Linked DNA regions of Homo sapiens: region 2 is linked to region 1. The links come from fine-mapping of genetic effects on gene expression. A gene starts in region 1. The other region holds a variant in brackets. All regions are shown on one strand. Distances are between the middles of the regions. Region 1 holds the start of ZNF740 (zinc finger protein 740). Region 2 has its middle 8.9 kb from the start of MIR615.

Region 1 (11,422 bases):
TAAACAATATAAAAATTGTCCGCGTGTGGTGGCTCACACCTGTAATCCCAGCACTTTGGGATGCTGAGGTGGGTGGATCACCTGAGGTCAGGGGTTTGAGACCAGCCTGGCCAACATGGCGAAACCTCATTTCTACTAAAAAATACACAATTAGCCGGGCGTGGTGGCGGGTGCCTGTAATCCCAGCTACTCAGGAGGCTGAGGCAGGATCCACCTGAACCTGTGAGGCGGAGGTTGCACTGAGCCAAGATGGTACCACTGCACTCCAGCCTGGGCGACAGAGTGGGACTCCATTTCAAAAATATATATATATATGGAGGAATTAAGGGGGTACAAGAATTCTAAAATATACAAATCATCAGGCTCAAGGAATGTCCCTTGCACATCATGTGGTTTCCCAACTCCTCAATCCACTGTTATCAAAGGTCTAATGGAAGGCAAAGGGAGCCACACACTGCTCATCTCTATTACGCAACCCCTCAACCCCCGCTGGCTCTCAGGGAAGGGAATGGGTTCAGTTTGTTCAGCAAACATTGACTGAGTGTTGTCTACTTCTGAGCGCCTGGCTGGCATTACCCTAGGTGCTGCATCTGCCCTGTGGGCTCCAGCTAACAGGCTGGCAAGAGAGACCTGCATGTAAAATAAAGGGAAATTGCCACAAGAGGGAGTTGAGAGGTCACCATGGAAAGGCAGGAAAGTTCAACTGGCCCAGGACAGGCTTCAAGGACAAAACACTAAGGCTCTCCTTAAGGCAATAGAGAGCTGGTGCAGGAAAAGACTCAGCAGGAGTCATTGCAATGCTATTTGAATAAGTGATGGAGTGGGCCTGAGGGAAGAGGGAGTTAGGGAAGGTCACACAGGAGGAGGCCTGCCTGGGGACAAAGGGATCTAGGCAATTGTCTCCTGAAGCGCTCTCAGCCAGGTTTATGGTTAGAAAGCTAAAGTACTCTGTGCTATCTCCCAATCAACAAACCCTAGTGGCTCCACACCCACATTAATAAAGGCACAAACTCTCCTATGTATACAATCTTTTCTCTGCTTCTAGACTGTACTCTCCTGGGTGGAGAGAACTAAGTCTTTTCCTTCATTAAGTAAACTAATAGAAAACAGGGACCCCTCAAATGTTAGTTTCCATCTTCTTGATTGTCCTCTCCCCTCCCCCAGGGACTTGCACAGAGGCATTACATAAACATTTGTTAAATCAATCAATGATTTGCAGGTACTGGAAAAAATGCTGCATTCTACTTACATTTGATTTGCATCAACCAAGAATCTGTAGTAATGATAATAGATTTGCAAAGGGTGTTTTTCCTTCTCATTTATTATCTTATTTGACCTTCACAATAGTATTAGAAATTAGCCTAAATAGGTATTTATTCATTCTTGTTTTCAAGATGAGGATTCTTAGCTGAAAGAAGGTGAACTAATTGTCCAAAATTACAAAGGTGACATGGGAACAAGCCTAGATCACTGACTTTCTGACTTTAGGCTACCTCTTCCACTGCATCACAGGTCCGTGTGGCATTTCTCACTATTTCTCATCATTGACAAAAATTAACTGCAGCTAAGATAAAGACAGAAACTGAAAATATACAACCATAAGAATACAAGAAGGGGGGGTGAGGGGCGGGCACAGTGGCTCAAGCCTGTAATCCCAGCACTTGGGAGGCCGAGGCAGGTGGATCACCTGAGGTCACCTGAGGTCAGGAGTTCGAGACCAGCCTGACCAACATGGTGAAACCCCGTCTCTACTAAAAATACAAAAATTAGCCGGGTGTGGTGGTGCATGCCTGTAATCCCAGCTACTTGGGAGGCTGAGGCAGAAGAATCGCTTGAACCCGGGAGGCAGAGGTTGCAGTGAGCCAAGATCGCACCATTGCATTCCAGCCTGGGCAGCAAGAGCAAAATTCCATCTCAAAAAAAAAAACAAGAATACCAGAAGGGGCTGGGAGCAGTGGCTCACGCCTGTAATCCCAGCACTTTGGGAGGCCAGGGCGGGTGGATCACGAGGTCAGGAGATCGAGACCATCCTGGCTAATATGGTGAAACCCCATCTCTACTAAAAATACAAAAAATTAGCCCGGCATGGTGGTGGGCACCTGCAGTCCCAGCTACTCAGGAGGCTGAGGCAGGAGAACGGCGAGAACCCGGGAGGCGGAGCTTGCAGTGAGCCGAGATCATGCCACTGCACTCCAGCCTGGGTGACAGAGCGAGACTCCATCTCAAAAAAAAAAAAAATATTTATTTATTATTTTAGAGAATAAGTTTTGCTGTATCACCCAGGCTGAAGTGCAGTAGCACAATCATGTCTTACTGCAGCTTCGAACTCTTGGGCTCAAACAATTCTCCCACCTCAGCCTCCTGAGTAGCTAGGACTACAGGCACATGCCAGCATGCCGGGTTAATTTTTTAATTTTTTGTAAACAGGGTCTCACTATGTTGCCCAGGCTGGTCTTAAACTCTTGGCTTCAAGCAATCCTCCCACCTCAGCCTCCCAAAGCACTGGGATTACAGGTGTGAGCCACCTCGCCTGGCCAAAATATAATGTTTTTATTGTGAATCAGATTATTTATTCTATGGTATTTTAGTGTTGGTTATATTCTTATATTTTATTTATATAATTTTTGTTTGTTAATCTGACATCTGGTCATGTTGCTGAACTCCATAGTTTTGATACATTGTCAATCGTTTCTCTTTGTAAGATGAATATATATGAAATCAAGGAGGCTTTAGGGTGGCCAGGAGCTCTCCTAAAATCTTAGTTTTAATAGTAAACATCCCTGGCTTGTTCCTAGCAAAGACAGAAATGTTTCAAATATTTTCCCATAAAGCATGACTTTTGTCTCAAAAGCTGAAAGATAAGTGAAAAAGAGAAAATATTTTAAATGCAGACGACAAAGAATAGTTATTATCCATAACACAGACAGGATTTCTACCATCAATAAGAAATATACAAATGATCTACCTTTTTTTAATGGGCAAAGGATATGAACAGACAGTTTACAAAAACAATTAAAATGGTCAAAGAGCAATAAAATAGTCCCACCTATTTGGAAGGCTGAAGTGGGAGGATCACTTGAGCTCACGAGTTGGAAACCAGCCTAAGGCAACAAAGCGTGGAGACCCATCTATTTATTTATTTATTTATTTATTTATTTTTTGAGACAGAGTTTCGCTCTTGTTGCCCAGGCTGGAGTGCAATGGCACAATATGGGCTCACTGCAACCCCCGCCTCCCGGGTTCAAGTGATTCTCCTGCCTCAGCCACCTGGTAACTGGGATTACAGGCACGTGCCACCAAGCCCAGCTAATTTTTTTGTATTTTTAGTAGAGATGGGGTTTCTCCATGTTGGCCCAGCTGGTCTCAAACTCCTGGCCTCAGGTGATCCGCCCACCTCGGTCTCCCAGAGTGCTGGGATTACAGGCGTGAGCCACCGTGCCTGTCCAGAGACCCATCTCTTAAAAAAAAAAAAGGCAATAAGAGAATATTAACTTCACTATTAATGACATGAAAATTAAAACAAATACTATTTTTCACCCATTAAACTAGTAACTGTATAAAAAATTCATAGCATACACTAAACATTGCCAAAGTTGTAGGAATAGGGAACATTCACACATGGTTCTGAGTAAACATGGGAGTTGTTACAAACTTTTACAATTCATTTTCACAGAATCTATTAAAATTTACATATCCGGCCAGGCATGGTGGCTCAATCCTGTAATCCTAGCACTCTAGGAGGCCGAGGCCAATGGATAGCTTGAGCCTAGGAATTCGAGACCAGCCTGGGCAACATGGCAAAACCCTGTCTCTACAAAAAACAAAAAAACAAAAAAAAAACTACAAAATTATCCAGGCACAGTTGCCCACATCTGTAGTCCCAACTACTTGGGAGGCTAAGATGGGAGGATTCCTTGAGCCCAGGAGGTTGAGGCTGCAGTGTGCCCTGACTGCACCATTGCACTCCAGCCTGGGCGACAGACCAAGACCCTATCTTTAAACAGAATGAAAATAGGGCCGGGTGTGGTGGCTCACACCTGGAATCCCAGCACTTTGGGAGGCCAAGGTGGGTAGATGACCTGAGGTCAGGAGTTCAAGACCAGCCTGACCAACATGGTGAAACTCCATCTCTACTAAAAAATACAAAAAAATTAGCCGGGCTGGCAGCAGGCGCCAGCTACTCAGGAGGCTAAGCCAGGAGAATTGCTTGAACCTGGGAGGTGGAGGTTGCAGTGAGCCAAGATTGTGCCATTGCACTCTAGCCTGGGTGACAGAGTGAGACTCCATCTCAAAAAAAAATAAAAATAAAAATAAATTTAAATAAAAGCACATATCCTATCTATAAATCCTTATAAATGCAAAAGGTAACTTTTTTTTCTTTTTTGAGACAGAGTTTCACTCTTATTGCCCAGGAAAGGCACGACTCTCGCCTCACCACAACTCCCGCCTCCCGGGTTCAAGTGATTCTCCTGACTCAGCCTCTCGAGTAGCTGGGATTACAGGCATGTGCCACCACGCCCGGCTAATTTTGTATTTTTAGAAGAGACGCGGTTTCTCCATGTTGGTCAGGCTGGTCTGGAACTCCCGACCTCAGATGATCCGCCCACCTCGGCTTCCCAACGTGCTGGGATTACAGGTGTGAGCCACCCTGCCCGGAGCAAAAAGATAACTATTTAAGGATGTTCATTATTGTATTGTTTATAAAGCAAAAAAATCTGAAACCTAAATGTTCATCAAGATGGGACAAGGCACACACATAAACTGGAATACTGTGCAACAGTTTTTTAAATGTTAGCTGACTCAGATGTCTAAAATACACTGTATGGCGCATTACAGGTGCTCAATAAATACTGGTTGAAAAGATTTTTGTATGAACACAGAAAAAAGCCTAAAAGCATATATACCAAACTGGTAAGAATGATTCCCTTCAGGAGCATGGGATAAGTAGAGGGGGAGAATAACCATTTTGTGTCTTTTATACTTTTGCGTTGTGTCGATTTGTAAAATAAGTAGGAGCTAATTTTCAAAAAAGATTTAAAAGACTTATTCCTGGTGATGTTTCTTTATCTCTCTCTTTCTCCATTTTGTCTCTATTTTAGAATGATCCTAAAACACAAAAAACGTACTTTCAATGGCCCAAATCATGGAGTGGCTCAGGGAAATGAAATCTGTCTACAAAAAAAAAAAAGTTGAGAATCCTTGTCTTTTTTTCATCATACAGTTTTTTTTTTCTTTTGGTATCACCATTACTTCTCCTAAAGTCACGACATAATATCACCTACAGCAGAAATGAGGACTTCAGTGGAATTGACATCTCCTTCCATCAAGCGCATTTGCAGTCCATCTTTAGCAGGACCTCTCTCTAATGGCTAAGGCTAGGCAGAAGAATTTGAAGACAGTCTGGTTTCCATTTTCCTAATGCAGCCTGGCCCAAGAGCCAGGACTCCCATAAGACTAGTCTACTGTGGGAGTCAGGGTCTTTTCCACGTGTGGAGGCTAGTGTTTGATGCTGGACGGCCTGGAGTAAAGGGCGAAGGGGAGAAGGTAACCAACCAGGCTGGCCTCGGGATTCGCAGAGGAGGGCTGGGGCTTTGACTTCTGCAGGGAGGTGAGCAGTGTGGCCAAGGGCTACTCAAGGAACGCCTCTGCGAGAATTCAGACTGTGGTTGAGCGCACAAAGCAAGAGTGTGCGAAGAAAAGTTAACGCCTCTCCCAGCTGACCCCAAAATCTGCTAATCTGGGCCTGACGGAAAAAATTCGGAGAAGAACCACCTCGGCCGAGTTACGTGAAAAGGCTGGGTACGAACTACTCTGGCTCTACTTGGGGCGCCGGCTCAGAGCGATGGGCAGGACGTCCGCGAGGAAGAAAGAGTGACGATGATTTTTCAAGGAGTCTGAACCAGCTCACCCAGCAAACCCTCCTCCCATCGAGCACCCAGCGTACAATCATCGAAGGGCCGAGGGTCCTGCCCTCAGTCTCGATGGCGGCCGGGGCGCGCCCCGGCCACGGCGCACGCGCCGGCCTCAGCGCTCCCTCCTCCATGCCCTCGGCGCACGGCGCCGCCCACTCACCCAGCTGCACCTCTCCGTGCGTCCCCAAGCTCACCCGCTCTGAGGCTGCCCCCGCTAGTCTAGCTGCCGAGCCCGGAAGTGGATGCAGCCGCTCGGCGGAGAGGACGAGGGGGAGGGGGAAGTGCTTCCGGGGAAACGGGCCGGGGTTGGTGTTTGTAAACTTGCCTCGGTCCCGGTGGGGGCAGCCGCGGCGGTGGGGTTGGCAGGGTGTGCTGGGGCCTGGAGGAGGCGCCGCGCGGCCAGGGAGCCAGCGGGAGGCCGCGCCTGGCAGGTAGGAGCAAGCCCCAAAGACCGCAGCGTCGTCCGTACAGACGGCAGCGCTTCAGTAGCTCGCAAGCCGTGGGGTGCCGCGCGGGAAGGGGGAGGGGAGGGGAGGAGGGGCGCGTGGCGAAGGGAGGGGGATCTCCGGGGGAGGGAGGGGAAAGGCCGTGCGCGCACACCGCCCCCTGCCCGCGCGTCCCGCCGCGTCCCCGGCCCGGGAGAGGGCTCTCGGAGGGGACGCGGGCGCGAGCACGCATCTCGCGCGCTTCTCGGCACTCTCCGGCTCTGCTCCCGGTTGGTGCAGCGGGTGCAGAGGCTGGCTGGCCGGAGCGAGGCGGGCGACACGCCGCGCCGGGCTTCGCCTGCCTGTCCTCCACCTCCGCAGCAAGTTTCCCTACCTTCGGGCGGACGGGGAGAACGCACACGTGTGGGCACTGCCAGTCCCGTTTCTGCCCGCCACCGAAGCACCCAGCGATGGCCCTTGAGCTTTCCTCCACCCTAGTCTTGCCGCCTCTGTAAAGTGCGAGCTTTTCGGGCCGGCCCACTGGGCACAAAAGCCCCAAAGGGTCTCCGCCCCCTTCTTCCATTCCTGAGATGGCAAATCCAAGCAACTTTCCTTTTGGCAGAGTTCCTCCATAGGAGGCCCCAATTACTTTTGCTCCTGTTGGCTTCCACTCCTTGCCCAGGAGACCAGTTCCTCCTATTGACCTAGAAAGAAAACTCTTCTTGACTCATGTCCTCGTTCTGAGCTTCACAGAGAGCGCCCAGCAAAAAAAAAATTCATATCGCACGTTGTAATGGCCTGAAGATGTTGCATTTAGCAGCCCCCCTCTTCCTTTCTGGTTTCAGGTTTCTGAAACAGATCGTGAGCTTCATCAAGAGAATTCAACTGGAAAACCAAGACTGGTAGACTCTCTTTTTCTTCAGACAATAGGCAGGAGCCAGGCAGAGTCCAGGGATTCTTGGAACACCTATCTTTTCTTCGGAGGACACTAAGTTCTATTTGAAGACAAAGTTCAATATGGCAACAGGACTGATGGGACACGAAGGAGTCGCTACCGTGATTTGGTGACAGTTCTTCAAAACGACAGTGTCTCAAGGAAAGGTGGACCTAGGAACTCCTGAACTTTTGGGTTGCCTTAAGTGAGAAATCAGCATGGCTCAGGTAAAAAGCTCTAGAGTCCTCCTCCAAGATAACTGGGAAGCCTGTTTGCAGTTTCACTCTTGAATGCTGCCTTAGTCAACATATTGACCAACCCCAGTGATCCAAGCTCTGTATTAAGCACCAGGGGGAGATCTAGAGGAAGGAAAGGAGACAGGCCACAGCCCCTGCCTTCAGGGAGCTTCCAGTCAAATGAAGGAGGTAGGCTATACTGCATCACAGGCACTGATGGGACATTTGCAAAGCAACGTGTACTCAGTTTACATTTGGTACATTAAGTGCTGAGGGGTGTAAGGGAGTGAATAGTACGGTGAATGCTTCTTTTGTTTTTTTCCAACAGGAATTTATTGAGTTCCTGTTGCATGCAAGGCATTGTGCTGGGAATACAAAGATGAATACGATTGTCCTTGTCCCCAGTGAGCTTCCAGGCTAGTTGGGGTCGGGAGAGGGATGGAAAGCCATTTATTTTTATATTCACAATGCCTTGTATAGTGGCTGGCTAGTAGTAGAGACTCTGAATCTGTTGATTGAGGAATGTGCAATAATAGGGGTATGTACATAGGAGAGAACAGTACTTCTGCTTGGATAGAAAAAGAAGATGGAGGTTGAAAGATGCATAGGATTTTGCTAAACAAGCGAGAAGGGTGTTTGGACAAAAGGAACAGCATGGGCAGGAGCTTAGAGTCATGGGAAAATGTGATGAGGTTCCGAGTACTGCAGGTTGTTTGATAGTTACGGAGTAAGGGATTTAAATGGGGATAGTTATGGAGGTAGTATTGACAGTGATAGGTGAGGAAGTTGTTCCCTGCAGTAAGCAGAGTGTAACCCAAAGGCCTTTTATGCCTCGCTAAGTTAAGCAGCAGAGTAGCATCAGATCAGTGTTATGTAGAAGGTCATTATTGTGGAGGTAGAGGATGGACTGGAGAGACAGAATGAGCAGATAGGCTGTTGTAGTCATCTGAGTAGAATAGCTATGTGCACACATCTCCAGAGCTTCTCCCAGCTTGCTTCTAGGGAACCTCCCTACCAGTCTCACCAGGATGGCAGTCTGATTGTAGTATAATTGGCTTTCCTCCAGCTGCTTCTGAATGCACAGCTTCCTCCTTTCCATATAGAATAGGAGCCTGTCAGTTTCTTCTTCCTTTGTGTTTTGCAACCCACTTCTCAGCATTGTATTCAGTCTTCTGAGAATGCTGCCTTCCACTAAGGACTGAACTTTGTGCTAGACACTGTTAAGCGTTTTACGTCTTAGTTTACTTTTCATCAACCCTGTAAGGATAAGCATTATGACAGGCATTTTTCATGTAAGGAAACTAAGGCTTGCAAAGGTGGAATAACTTGCCCAAGATTATAGAGTGCAAACAGCTGAGCTAAGATTTTAACTCTGGATCTTTCACTCCAAAGTCCCAGAAGGTGGAGGGAGGGGTCCCAGAACGTACTGATCATCTAAAAGGAATTTCTTCATAAATTTGTGAGTTTGCTGACCAACGATTTCTTAAAATTTTTTTTTTCAGTAAGAAAAGTATTTTCTTTAATGCCGGCTAACCGAAGTCAGTTTGAAGAATGTAGCAGTTTTCTGGAAATTTACTTAAACATACCTTACTTAAGTAATTGTTTAAATTATATATGGAGCAAGGAATGTGAAAAAAAATGTGATCATACAAGCACACATATAAATGGCCTAAGAGGTCAAGAGAAATGCTGAACTCCAAAAATCATATCAGTTGCAATTGGTAAATACTTAGGGAGTTTAAAATCTAAAGGGAGAAATAGCCTGTAGTCCCAGGACCTTAGGAGACTGAGGCTGGAGGATTGTTTAAGCTCAGGAGTTCCACACCAGCCTAGGCAACATGGTGAAACCCCGTCTCTATAAATACAAAAAAAAATAGCCGGGTGTGGTGGCATTCTCCTGAAGTCCCAGTTACTCAGGAGGTAGAGGTAGAAGGATCGCTTAAGCCAGGGAGGTCAAGAGTGCAGTGAGCCGAGATCGTGCCACTGCACTCCAGCCTGGGCGACAGAGTGACACCCTGTCTCAACCAACAAGCAAAAAATGAAACAAACCGATAGAAAATACAGTTGGCACCAGCAAGATCTGCCAATCAAAAGTGGGCTCTGAAGCTAAGGGGTGTGTGTGTGTGTGTGTGTGTGTGTGTGTGTGTGTGCGCGCGCGCGCTCTGAAGCTAAGGGGTGTGTGTGTGTGTGTGTGTGTGTGAGTGACGGAGGGATTCTCGCTCTGTTGCCCAGGCTGGAGTGCAGTGGCGCGATTTCGGCTCACTGCAGCCTCCGCCTCCCGGGTTCAAGCAATTCTTCTGCCTCAGCCTCCCGAGTAGCTGGGACCGCAGGTGTGTGCCACCACACCTGGCTAATTCTTGTATTTTTAGTATAGACAAGGTTTCACCTATTGTCCAGGCTTGTCTCGAACTCCTGACTTCGTGATCCGCCCGCCTCATTCTCCCAAAGTGCTGGGATTATAGGTGTGAGCCACTGCACTCGGCCCAGCTGAGGGCTGTTGAGGGAGGAAGGAGGAAGGTCCTGAAGGAATCTCCTGTGTCAGTGGGTTAGCAAGATGGAACCTCATACCCACTCACAGTTAAGGCCTAGAAATACCTTCAAAGAAATATGTAGCCACACACTGCCTAGTGCTGATGACAAAGGTGTCAGTAATACTTGATTATTTACTTGATCTATATTTAAATGCTGAAGGATGACAAGATAAGTCGTTCCTGGTGAGATGAGTTAGGGAGGACTCTTGAAGGAAGCAAGGCTTTGGCAGTGAGGAGGGACATTCCCTGGAGAGAAGCAGTTTGTAGCAGGGTGTAAAAGGTAGTTCTATAGAGGATGGCAGTCTGTTTTTGCCCTGCCCTGCCAGGTGACCTGACACCTCATCTCCTTTCAACTTAGGCAAGTCTCCTGGCTTGTGAAGGCCTAGCAGGTGTGAGTTTGGTTCCCACTGCAGCCAGCAAGAAGATGATGCTGAGCCAGATTGCCAGCAAGCAGGCCGAGAATGGCGAGCGGGCAGGTAGCCCTGATGTGCTGAGGTGCTCGAGTCAGGTACAGCGCTTGAGTCCATTGTGGCACCTGGGGATCGGGTGGCCCAAGCTCTCTGCCAGGAGATACCAAGCTCTGATTCCTTGATGCTTCCTCATAGGGAAGTGGGGCAAGGGGATCCAACTGGGGAATGGATGAACATTGGTATTTCAGAAAGCTAAGGAAGGTCTTTTGTGTGCCTTCAACTCTTTTAAGACCAGGTGCTTGGAGAGGAAATAGTTGTATACTTCCTCTAAGCTTTCGGGGCAGGTGGTTTACTCTCATTTATGAATTTTGTCTGAGAGCTGCATTGGGTCTCATCTCATGTTCCGAGATGGGCTATGAGTTTAGATTTGATTTGTCTTCAAAGGGTCACCGAAAAGACAGTGATAAGTCCCGGAGCCGCAAAGATGATGACAGCTTGTCTGAGGCCTCTCATTCAAAAAAGACTGTTAAAAAGGCAGGTAATGGGGTGATCCCCCAAACTCATACAGTTTGGTAATGGGGTAATATTCCTCCTTCTTCCCTCTACCATGTAACCTGGAGCTTTCCCTAGATGCTTTGATCTCTGATAGCCAGTGAGTGAGTCCCCCAGATTTCATCCAGAGACTACCTTGGTAGTTGATCTCCTGCCTTGCTGGAACAGTAATGGTACAGGTTGGGGAGCATGAGATCCCAGATCCCGAGGCATGGGAGCAGGCAGGCTCCAGCTCAAGTCATACTCAGACTGCTGGGTTTGACAGGATAGACAGCTTACCCACTCCACCTCCTTCCCCAAAGGGTCTCTTACCTCCATGGAGTACAGGAGATGGCAGCACCTTTAGACAGCATCAGAGAGGTTCCTTTCTCCAACAGCTGGAAGTGGACCCAGAGTAGAACAGTGTCTCCAGGAAGAGGGCA
Region 2 (11,422 bases), 860 kb after region 1:
TGGCTTCTGCAGCATCGTCGGGAGTCAGCGGCGGCAACCAAGCCAGAGGCCTCGTACCTACTTCCCTACGCTGAGGGTGCATAAGGCCCAGATCCCTGATTTCTCCCTGAACAGGGGCTTCTGCTTTGGGGCCTGGGGTAGTTTCCCCACCAGCCAGCCTCCTAGAACATATTTCCAGGTAACAGGGTCTGGCATTGCTCTGGGGGAGTTTATGGAGGGGTCTTCTGGGTTGCAAGCAGAGACTATGGAGCCTGCCTCTCCACTTTGCCCTGGAACCCACCCCCTCTGGCAGCAAGAAAGAAGGGGAAGAAGCATGACTTACCTTCCCGGGGGAGTGGGAAGAGGGGGGACACGGCCCACTCTGAGCAATTAGAGGAAAGAGGAGGAAAAAATAAGAGGACAAAAAGATCAACACGACCTCGAAGGCGACAGGTCCTTATGGAAATAAGTAAGTAAATAAATAAATAAGGATCCACCCTCTCCCCCCTCTCCACCCTGCAAGGGGGATGTGGGGGTGGGGCAAAGGAACAGCACCAGGGCTTTTTAGTGTAACTGAGCATTAGAGAAATAGGCATGCTTCTATGTGAATTTAGGAGTTTGAAACTTTTGGAGGTTATTTATGTGAATAGCCTGAAGGCAAGCCCGTGAGTGGCTCTTGGGGGACCACGTGATATCATTAAACCAAGTTTTATGGTGTAGGGAGAGCTGACAAACCCACAATATATTTACATCATATATAATCTTAACTGTCCAGCCACGCAGCTGCTGGTGAGGTTTAATGCTAGGACAGAGGGCCTGGCAGTTAGAGGGGATTACGGCGCTGGGGACGATGGTGAGAGAGGTTACATCTTCGCAAATGAATCCCAGGCGAACGCTGTGAGTTAATTCTCTCTTTCTCTCTCTCAGACCCTTTCTCCCATTTACCTAACCACCCCCCTCACTTGATAGAAGGCAGCTCCCACTTATTAGGGGGAGGGGGAAAAGGCCTTCCCAGGCTGGGGTGGGAGAAGAGAAGAAGCAGCAGAAAAAGCTGCTGGGAAGTAGGAAGATGGGGGAGCTTGTCTACCCTGAGCAGCCCTCCCCTTCCCACTCCTTATTCTCTCTGACTGCAAGTCAACTGGGGTAGAGAGGCCTTGGTTGTTTAGAGATTTGCCAGGTCTTCCTGACCCTTTCAGTTGAGAAGAAAGCAAGCGGCAGCAACAAGGGTGTTTGGTGTCTGTACGGGTATGTAAACTCTAGACACAAGCTCAAAATGCCTCTGGGGCCCACTGTTCCAGGGAGGGGTGAGTTCAGCCCTTGGCCAGTGGCCCAAGGTGGGAAACTGGGGAGAAAGGCAGGGAAGGAGGGTTTTGTGGCTTCTACGCCCACAGGCTACTGCTGCCTGAACTGGCAAAAGTATCTCAAAGGTGGCTGTTTGAACCCAGAGGTCCCAGAGTGCCCCCTCCCTCCCTCACTACCAGGCTTGGATGGGCAGCTGTCTCAGCCTCCGTAGTTTGGCATCTTAGTCCGTCTGAAGCCAGTGTGGTTTCATGCTTCCTCCTCTCCTTCTAGCTGCTTGGGTCTTCCTGGCATTCCCAGCCCTTGCCTGAGATAAAACTAGGCTCTAAGAGCCCTAGAGGTTCCTGCTGTGAGTGGAGTGTAATTGTGTGTTGAATGGGTGAGGGAGCAGAGGCAATGTCTTTGCTAGGCTGGGAAAGTAAGTCCCCCAACCTTAAGGACAGAGTAGCCCCTCGGGGATGGAGCTAGCAGGGCCCAATATGAGCACTGCACCCTGGGGTCAATCCTCAGGCTAGGGCGCCCTTCAGGTTTCTAGGAAGGAGCAGCAGAAGCGTTGGGCATGAGAGGCACATGTCTTCCACACCTGCAATTGCTATCCCTCCCTGTGCGTCACCGGGAGCTAAGCCAGGAAAGTGACAACATGTGAATTCAGGCTCCTGTACTGGCCAGCCATGAATAGCCAGGGCTTTGGAAGCAGGGCTGAATGCCAGCGGACCCATAGGTGCAACTCCTCCAGGCTGGGAGAAAGGGGTGGGGAGCAGAGGGAGTGAGCCAGATATGCACCTTCCAGAAGGGGAGCATGCCTGGGGAGCAGCGGTGTCTGGGCATCTGCTTTGTGGAGAGGTGCTGTTGGGGGATGAGGAGGGAATGCTGTTAGCCTCGCCCCCGCTGCTCAAGGGACTGGGGAAGAAGCGAGAAGCAGGCAGACTCTGGGAGAAGGAAGGGGGCACAGAGGCCCAAATAAATGGGGAGTCTTAGCTGAGCCCCATTCTTCAGTCTAGGGGTCTCTCACTTGCATGAGGAGCTCGGGAACCCGACATGGAGGATTCCCTTGACGCCATCCCTCAGGGCCTCAGTCTCGGCCAAGATTCAGCCTCCCCCACCCTCCTCCCTGATACCTTTATTTTCCTAGGATCCCAGGGAATTCTCTCCAGCAACGCATTGGAAAAAACTAATTATCAGTTTCTCCCTTCCTCATTACCCGTCCTTCTTGGCTCTCTCCTTCCCTCTAGTCTGTGATTTTGAGAGTTTCTGGAAACTTTCCTATCCAAGCAGCGGAGACATGGGAGTTTCTCTTGGTCTGTAACTTGACTCTTCCCCACCCTCCAGCCTCCCCAGGGCTCTAGGGAGCGAGTGCAGTGGTCTTTAACCGGGAATTTAGCCAGGGCCGAAGTCCCACACCCAGGCAAGACTCCACCCTGACACCCGCCCTGACTCTCGGCCAAATCTCAGTCCCATTCCCTTCCTCTCTGTGTAGACGGGCATTCGAGGGTGTTTAAAGATTTACATAGCGTCCCTTGAGCCCTTTGATGACTTCTTCACCCCCTTTTCTGTTCTTTAGGCTCAAAAGTTCCATTTAAATACCACCCCTCTTCCTGTGATAATTGATTCTCCTTCCCCTCAAATAGTTTGCCTCAGTTTTTTACTGTTTTCTAAAAAGTTTCTAGTTCCACCTGGAAACAGGGCAAACGCAAAGGAGGCCTGAAATTCTTGGTTTTCCCACCCACTACCCCAAACCCTAATTTGGAGTGTCTCTGGAGCGGAGGGTGGGCAGGCAATCAGGTGCCAAGCTTTCCAGCCAACCCGGGAAGCTTTTAATTTTGTTCCTAGGACTTTAACCCAAGGAGAGGTCAAGCAACCAATCAGAAATGCACTAAGCAGGGTCACATGGTCCCCACCAACCAATCAGCAAAAACTACTTGGGTCTCTGTCTCGCTCTTCCCATCCGGCCCTGTTCCTTCCTCCCTCCCTCCCTTCCCACCACAGCCTTAGCTCCTGGGTTTATCCTATCTCAGATTTGGAAGGCTGGAGTGATACCCAGCATATTCTAGCCTCCTCTGTCAGTCCCTGAACCAACTCTGAGGAGTCTTTGGCTTGTCTCCTCAGTTGCTTACAAAGTTGTATCTGGGAGTCAATCTCAAATGCACAAGGATGTGAAGTTGTGGGGGCATCCTCTGGATTATTCCCACGTTCGCCAGCGTGATTCTACCCAATTTTCTGGGTGTTGTAGTTGTAGACTCTAAATTAGACTATAGAGCAAATACAGATATGAACTCCAGCCCTGAATTCAAATTCTGGCTGTGATTATTCCCCATACACTTACAAGTATTCATTCTCTTCTGATTTTCATGAGGGCAGGTGGGGTGAGAGGAGAGCCCTTTTGATTTCTCTTTCTGGAAATGCTCCAATAGCCATTAGCTTTATCAGACTGCCTCAGGCATGGTTAGGGAAGGGAGCAAAAGTGGAGATTTTTTGAAAGTTCTGATTGGTACCTTTCGTTTGTCGAATAACTTTGAGCTAGTTAAGGGTTCTGGAAAGGAATGAGCACAGAGAATTCCGACTTTCCTCACTCTCCACATTAAATAGTTGATGGATTTGTTTAAACCCCTTCCCTTCCATTCTTTTAACAGGATATAATAATAGTAATAATAATAATAGACTAGGTGATGATCCTATGTCCTGGCCAATAGCCATCAAAAGGTACAGCCACTGAAGGTGTGGATTTCAGTGTTTGAGTTTACATGGATTAGGCCAAGAACAAGCAATAGGCGAGAAACTATTGCTGAGTAAGAGCATCTGATGGCACAGGGAGTGCACAGCTATGACAGAAATGCTTGTGTTTCCTGAACACTTGGGCTGGGCCCTGAGCCAGTCCACTGCTGGGTCCAGACCCAGGTATTCTCCCCCAGCCACTTCTCTAGAGCTTTGTTTCAGAGTGAATTTTCTGGTTGGGTTCTCCTCCCCTTCTCTTCCTGATCTCTTGCCCTCTTTGAGCTAAGGGGCAGGAGTTCTGATGGACTGTGGCACCTGGACCTCTAAGCACCCCCCTGGGGGCATTAAGAGTACAAGAATGGGAAGGATAGTCCGGACTGAGCTGGGCTTTGTCAACAATCCCCTCATTGTTTGTCTTCTGGATGGAGCTGGTTTGGGGACAATGCCACAGGCCAGGTGGGAAGGATAAGGATGAGAAGCCAGAAAAAGAGCAGCTCTTCTCAGAAATCATTGAGCCCTCACTTTTCAAGTTACCTTCAACCACACTGCTCCATCTGCTTATTTTGAGACTAAGTTTCACTCTTGTCGCCCCGGCTGGAGTGCAATGGCACAATCTCGGCTCATCGCAAACTCTGTCTCCTGGGTTCAAGTGATTCTCCTGCCTCAACCTCCCAAGTGGCTGGGATTACAGGTGCCCACCACCACACCCAGTTAATTTTTGTATTTTTGGCAGAGATGAGATTTAATCATGTTGCCCAGGCTGACCTCAGGTAATCCACACGCCTCATCCTCCCAAAGTGCTGAGATTACAGGTGTGAACCACCGCGCCCAGCCTTTTCTTTTCTTTTCTTTTTTTTTTTTTTTTTTGAGATGGAGTTTCACTCTTGTTGCCCAGGCT[A/G]TAGTGCAATGGCAGGATCTCAGCTCACCGCAAACTCTGCCTCCTGGGTTCAAGCGATTCTCCTGCCTCAGCCTCCTGAGTAGCTGGGATTAGAGGCATGCACCACCACGCCTGGCTAATTTTGTATTTTTAATAGAGACAGGGTTTCTCCGTGTTGGTCAGGCTGGTCTCAAACTCCTGACATCAGATGATCCGCCTGCCTTTGCCTCCCAAGGTGCTGGGATTACAGGCATGAGCCACCGTGGCCAGCCCCATTTGCCTCTTTTATGAGTTAGAATTAAAGGACACACTTATTCTTCCCCAGTGAATGGTGTGGCAGATTGTTGGAGACCAACTCTCACCCTCAATGTGGACTTCTCACACTGGGGTACCAGATCTCATGAAGAGTTAGGAAACAAAGACAGGGGGAGATTGGTTCTATCCACACAGGCACTGGGAAAAGAGATTTTGTGAGTGCCTCGACCCCTCCTTGTGAGTGCCTCAAAAAGGTAAACTTTCTCTTTTTGACTGTCGTTCTCTGTAACTGCTTTGGACTGAGTTTTTGAGAGGGGGAATGCTGAAACATCATTGTTCTAGGATTTAATTAGGTCCTTTTTGCTGAGAAGACAAGCACCACCACCCTGAGCCTCTTCTTTAGTGGGACTAGGGCCCCTGAAGCCCTTTGAGGTGAAGGAGAAAGAAAATCTGAAATCAGGGTGCCAAACTAGGGTTTTGGGGTGAATGATTCAATTTAAGGAGAAGACGATGCTGTTTGAGAGCCAAGAAAGTCACATCCTTTCCTACCCCTCCCAACTTTTATTGGCTCCTTGTGACCCACATTGGTGTGTCTGTACTGATACTATCTCTGCTAGCAGCTTTGATGGGGCTCCAGGAGCCCAAGGAATTGCCAGACAAGGTCTGGGTTGAGGAACTTCGGTGATACAAATCTCTTTATTTTTGAGGCCTACACAACCCTTGTAATCATCTCCCTCTCCCAATCCTAAGGTTCACTGAGAGGCAAAAGGGGAACAGAGATACCTCAGAGGAAGCGGTATGGGTGTGCAATGTGGGACTTGGGAAAATTGGACTCGGTTATGCAGGACCTTGTTCAGCCTCTAAGGACCACATTTTAGCAGCTATGAGAAGAGGTTGAACACTTGGGCTGGGCCCTGAGCCGGTCCACTGCTCCAGGCATGCTGGGGAGCAAGTGCAGGGAGAAGGCTGCTTCTCTGCATCTGTACACATGTACAGAGAAAGTTCTACAGTGATCTGCAACCCCATATGGGCTGGGTGAAATGTGTAGCCTGGTCACCTAGGATCCTTTCAGTTCTGCACCACAGGTCTCAGAGAGGCAGTTCAGGCTTGGTTCTGCCCTCTAAAGATTCTCATTTACCCCAGCCCCTGGCCCTGAACACCAGAATACCTGAACACACAGAAACACATATATGTGCCCAAGGATGGTATGGTAGAGGTCAGAAGCCTGGGCTGGACACAGTAACCAGCATGGAACCAACTTCCCACTCCTCCCTCCCACTCCATTCTTCCCGTCAGCCCAGCTTGGAAACCATTTGTCCTCCCCACCCCACCCCCACCCCTCAAGCCCTGCGCAGCTGTTGAGTTTCCTTCCTTCTGCCTTTCTGGAAAACTCAAACGCTAGAGCTGACTCCAGGGATGGTGGCAGCCAGGCTTTCTGTGATCTTCAGTGTTGTGTTGGCCCAGATTGAGTTGTCAGGAGTTGAAGAGACATGGAGGGTCCAAGGAGGCCAGAATCTTATCTGATCTAATCCCCCTCTCCTTCTGTTCCAAGCTCAAACTCCAAACTCCTCAGGGCTCCCTTGCTCAGACATTAGAGATAAATCTTGTCTAGTAAATACTTCTTTTAAAAGTCAACTTTCTGGCTGGAAAACACAGGCTGTGTGTGTGTGTGTGTGTGTGTGTGTGTGTGTGTGTGTGTGTGTGTGTTTAGGGAGTAGTAAGGGTCAGGTCTTTCATTTTATGTTGTGTCTCTCCCCATCCCCTGGGTGGAGGATGGGGGCACAGGCTGAGGTTTTATTGAGGGTGCTTTTCCTGTTGGGAGTAAAGACAGGGTCATAAACGCCTAGAGTAGGGTGTTTTGATCTGGTGACTTCTCAGGAAGTAGCATCTGAGGTTTTGCTTTGTAAATCACTCTCCCCCAAAGCTGGCTTGGCAGATTGGATTGCACTTCCCCAAGCCCACCTGAGGCCCCTCCTTTCCTCCCTTCCCCAGTAAACTAAAGGAGAAATATAACAGAGCATCTGGAGTCTTCAAAATCCTCTGACTCCAATTTCTTTTTTAAAAGGCTAATTGGTGATTTTTTTTTCCCTCAAAGTTTTCCCCTAAAAAATAATGCAACGTTTCATTTCCTTTTGCCCATGCAGTCCCTGGTCCCCCAACCCCTCAGTCACAAAGGAACTAACATTGACAGTAAATAGCCTCAGAGCCTGGCTGTAGATATCAGGACTCTTCTGTTCTGGGGCTGATCTCTCCCTGTCACTCTTTCCCCAAGCCCCAAACCCCCTTTGACAAGGTAGAACTTCAGATGTATAAGACAGAGTTCATAGGAGCTAGGAATAAGAGGAGATGGCAGCGGGGCATAGGGGAACCCCATCGTGTACCGCATGAATGGAGGAAACTCTGCAGTCTGTCACTGGGTTTTTTTGTAATTAAGATGGGTGCAGGGGTGTGTGAGTGTGTGTGTTTGTGTGTGTGTGTGTGTGTAAGCCCCCAGCCTTCTCACATCTCTATGTACCAAACAAACAATATATTTTACCTAAATAACTCCATTTCCTAATGATAATGAGTCTTCCCCTCCTAAGGATCCCCCACCCCCTGGCTGGCAAGTCCCTCCCTTGTGCCTGGGGCTACAGAGCTGAAGGAAAACAAAGTTAAGAGCCCTCTAATTCAGCCTTAGTTCAAGCCAGATCAGGTCAGGAAGCTTTCAGGCCCAGGCATCAGGGCTTATATTCATTGCCAGCAAAATGCCCCTATATGCTGGAAATATGTCATAGATTATATGAGTTCCGGGCCCTCTTAGCACTTGCGAAGTCTCTAGTCCACCCTCATTTCTTTCTCAGAGAAGCCTGGGCTGGGATACCCCAAACCCACAAGCACTAGAGATTCCTCTTCATTCCTAGGACTCCATGCAAATAATCTTCACAGAGAGCTGAGCGCTCCCATAGTTATATATGTGAAAACGTATTTATAGATCGTTCTATGTCTATATCAGGATGTATGTTTTATATTCCTTTTTGTTCCACATTTAAATGCAGATTTATAGATCCATAGTGAACATAACAGTCCTCGGTCAAATTCCTGTGTGCACTTTACCAATCTTTCTATAGTGGTTGGATGTATATGCTAGGATGTATTGGTACAGCTCTCTTGAAACACCTAAGTGAATATTTGGAAATTTTTTTCTTTGTTGGAAAGAACTATGTGTGTGTTCAATGTCTATTTTGAAAATTTTATCTAGATTTATGCAAGGATCCTAACCCATAAAATAGCTACATATTGAAGCTACATATTTAGAGATCTTTACAGTCTTTGCATTTTTGCTGAAAAACTTACATGTTTGAACATATGTTTAGAGATGGTTTCATAATGCATGCATCTGTGTATAGGGGCATAGATCTCCCTTCTAGAAGGACTTAAACTTACTGCATCTCTCTGTCTCCCTCTCTATCTCTGTGTCTATGATATAAAAAGATATTAGGTGAGTGGGGGTAGGGAACAAATATATTTTGGATGTTTGGCTTATTAAAGCAAGTAATTCTGTCTCTATTTCTAAGGCCATCTCCAAAATCTAGTCCCACTAAGTTATCTGTCCCTCGAAAACCTACTCTAGGGGTCATAGACTGCCTCCAGGCTGCCTCTGTGACCTGAGATCCAAGCCGAAGCTCCCTACCTCTCAAGGTAGCCACTAAAAAGAAGGGGGAGAGAAGAAAGGGGAGAGTCCTCCAGCCCAGTTCCTGTTGGATCCCCAGGGCAAGAGGCTGACAGGGGCTTGTATATCTCCCTACACCCCCCACTGGGCCTTTGAAATGTGGGGGAAAAAGGGATCAAGTCCCCAACTGTTTTTATAGGGTGCCCAAATGATGCCAGGGTTACTGCACAACCCATAGGTTCCTCCTCCCCAGTTGTTCTCGGTGCCCAGGGCCCAATTAAGCGGCCGCCTTGCGCCCAGCAGCCCCGCTCTTATCGGCTGGGATTGATGCCTCCGCGTCTCCTGTATATCATTTCCAAGATTTTTTCTGTCCAACTCCTCGGCTCCTTTGGCTTCCGCGGCTTTGACTAATGATTGCTACAGATGCCAACGTCTCCAGAATCCTAATAGCCAGGCAGGCGGACTCTTATTTACCCGGCAACATTGCTGTGGGGGAGGGGGCCTGGGGGACAAGTATTGGGGTGTCGTAGGTCAGGGGACAGGGAGAAGGTTGTGGCCAACTCAAGTGTCACTGAACTTCTTCCCAGTCAGAAAGACATTCCCAATCCCCTTCTCTCCTTGAGGGAAATATATATATATATATACACAGTTAATGGTAACTCATTGCTGCCTCGTTAGAAAAGATCAAAGAATGAACACAACGTGGTAGAATAAGCAGAGCAATGTTTATTTGTTGTAAATAAATGAGAGAATAAGTGGAAAACCAGCAGTTTGGGGAGGAAAAAGAGAAAGGGAAAGAAGTCAGCCACAGTGGGAGAAGGGGCTCCTTTTCTTCATTTCTTGTCTTCCCCTTTCTCTCCCCACCCTAAGTCTACCCTTCTCATCAATTTCTCCCCTCTTTCCCTTCCTTCGCCTCACCTTCAATCCCTTGGGTGGAGGGGCTGAACAGCGTGTTCCCGGGCGGAGGTGCGCGCAGCCACCCCAGGCTGCTGCCAGGTGCCCGCTGGGGCTGCCAGGGCGAGGAGGCCTCTGGGCTGTGGAGCGAAAGTCAGATCCACCGCCTACTGCGGGGTAGGGGCCGCAGTGGGGACCGCCAGCCCTGTGGTCCCTCTCGCGCTGACTGGCGTAAAGTTGTGGCCGAATTCGCATCTCTTCTGGTGCTTCTCGCCCGCCAGCGCAGGGCCCAGGTGTTTGAGGCGAAGGGGCTCTAGCTCCCCGCAAGCCTGGAGCCAGGCGTCGCGCTTCCTCCGGGCTTAATCCAGACCTTTCAACACACACCTCATTCGGGGGAGGAGAAAAGCACAGGACCGCGGAGAGCCCAGCTTTGAGGCCAGGCCTGAAGGGATAACCCACACAGGGAACGTTTTCCTATCAGAGAATAATGGAGCACAAAATAATTCAGAAAGCGAATGGGCAGGACCACAGCCTGAGAGTCCCGCGCCGCGGGGCCGCTGCAGAGCCGGTCTCCCGAGCACCGCGGCAGGACCATTTCGTTGGAATGTAGGGCGAGGCCGAAGCCCGCCCCGGACCCAGGCCGCGAGGTGCGCGCCGGCCGCCGAGGGGCCGCCTGTAAATTACAGCCCGCCGGGAGGACTCGGAAATACACAAAAGGAGCCGAAAGATTTAAACAGTCGGAGGCAGAGGCGTCCCGAGGCGGCCAAAGCGGAAATCAATCACGTAATTAAAACAGGGAGGGGACGAAGCCCAAGGCTGGGGGTCCCGGGTTCGGAGGAGGCGGCCAAGGTGCAGGCCGAGGCTGGCGAGCGGCTTAGGGACGTGGCTCGCCCGCCAGGACCAGAGCGCGCGGAGGGGCTTCGGGGAAGTTTATAACACATCGCTATTGATTCCCGCTTGGCTAGGAAGAGCAGACTCTGGTGCCCTCTCCCAGGCCAGACCCTGAAGCCTCCGATGGCCCCTTCTCCGACTTTCCCGTTTTTGTGGGGTTGAGACGCGCAGTTGCAGTTGAAGGCCGCTCCCCAGATCCCACTGGTGCCACGATTTTGCCAAGGCAAGTTTGCGAACCCAAATGGCATCAAGATGCTGCCTTTGGGTTTGAGGGGATGGAGGGAGGTGACACCCCAGTTTCAGGCACTAAGAAATCTCTCTCGGCCTTGATTCCTCCAACCCAGGATTCAAAGCATGCCCGGAAAGACTCTGATCTATGGGCCGAGGCTTGGAAGGGGTGTGCGAGGCAGACGGGGTTATTAAAGGGAGAGCTTGGGGCTGAGCAAACTGGACCCCTTTGGGCTGGAAAGGAGAAAGAACAGCTCCTGGAAGAGAAAAAAAGGCACACCGGGAGCTGTGTTTTGTGAGGGGAAGATCTTATTATTGAGGTTAATCATGGTAATGATCTGGTATGGCTGGGTCAGCCCAGGAGACCGCGCTCTCCAAAGTTCTTTCTCACAGAGGTTTCTCTGGGGGAGTCAAGGGTTCCCCAACTTCACTATGGTTGGGGAAAATAAAATAAAGACCTCCAATCCTCTCCTCTGCCTTTTCCTCTCCCTCCCTTAAAAACTCCAGAAAAAGGGAAACCTTATAAAATCTCCATCACCCCACTTATTTTTCCTTGGCTCTCTCCAGTTTACTAAAATGCACGGTCTTTGGGAATTGAGTTTTTCTGGAGCACCCTTCTTGTGAAGCAACAGAGGTGA

Evidence for each region.
Region 2: its variant is fine-mapped to the expression of ZNF740 in monocytes (Schmiedel 2018, PIP 0.95).

The regions. Positions count from the first base shown.
Region 1 is chr12:53,174,495-53,185,916 of GRCh38, forward strand. ZNF740 (zinc finger protein 740) reads left to right here and starts at 6,228. Exons shown (of 7, transcript NM_001004304.4): 1 at 6,228-6,343; 2 at 7,183-7,498; 3 at 10,397-10,546; 4 at 10,893-10,982. The coding sequence starts at 7,490. CSAD (cysteine sulfinic acid decarboxylase) reads right to left here and starts at 6,431. Exons shown (of 17, transcript NM_001244705.2): 1 at 6,238-6,431; 2 at 4,608-4,648. RefSeq lists enhancers at 385-1,320, 5,697-6,255 and silencers at 5,918-6,007, 6,298-6,597, 6,951-7,245.
Region 2 is chr12:54,037,139-54,048,560 of GRCh38, forward strand. It overlaps a transcript of HOXC4 not described here. Among named protein-coding and RNA genes, the nearest start is that of MIR615, 8.9 kb to the left of the region's middle. RefSeq lists an enhancer at 9,303-10,202. The variant A/G (reference allele first, on the strand shown) is at 4,889.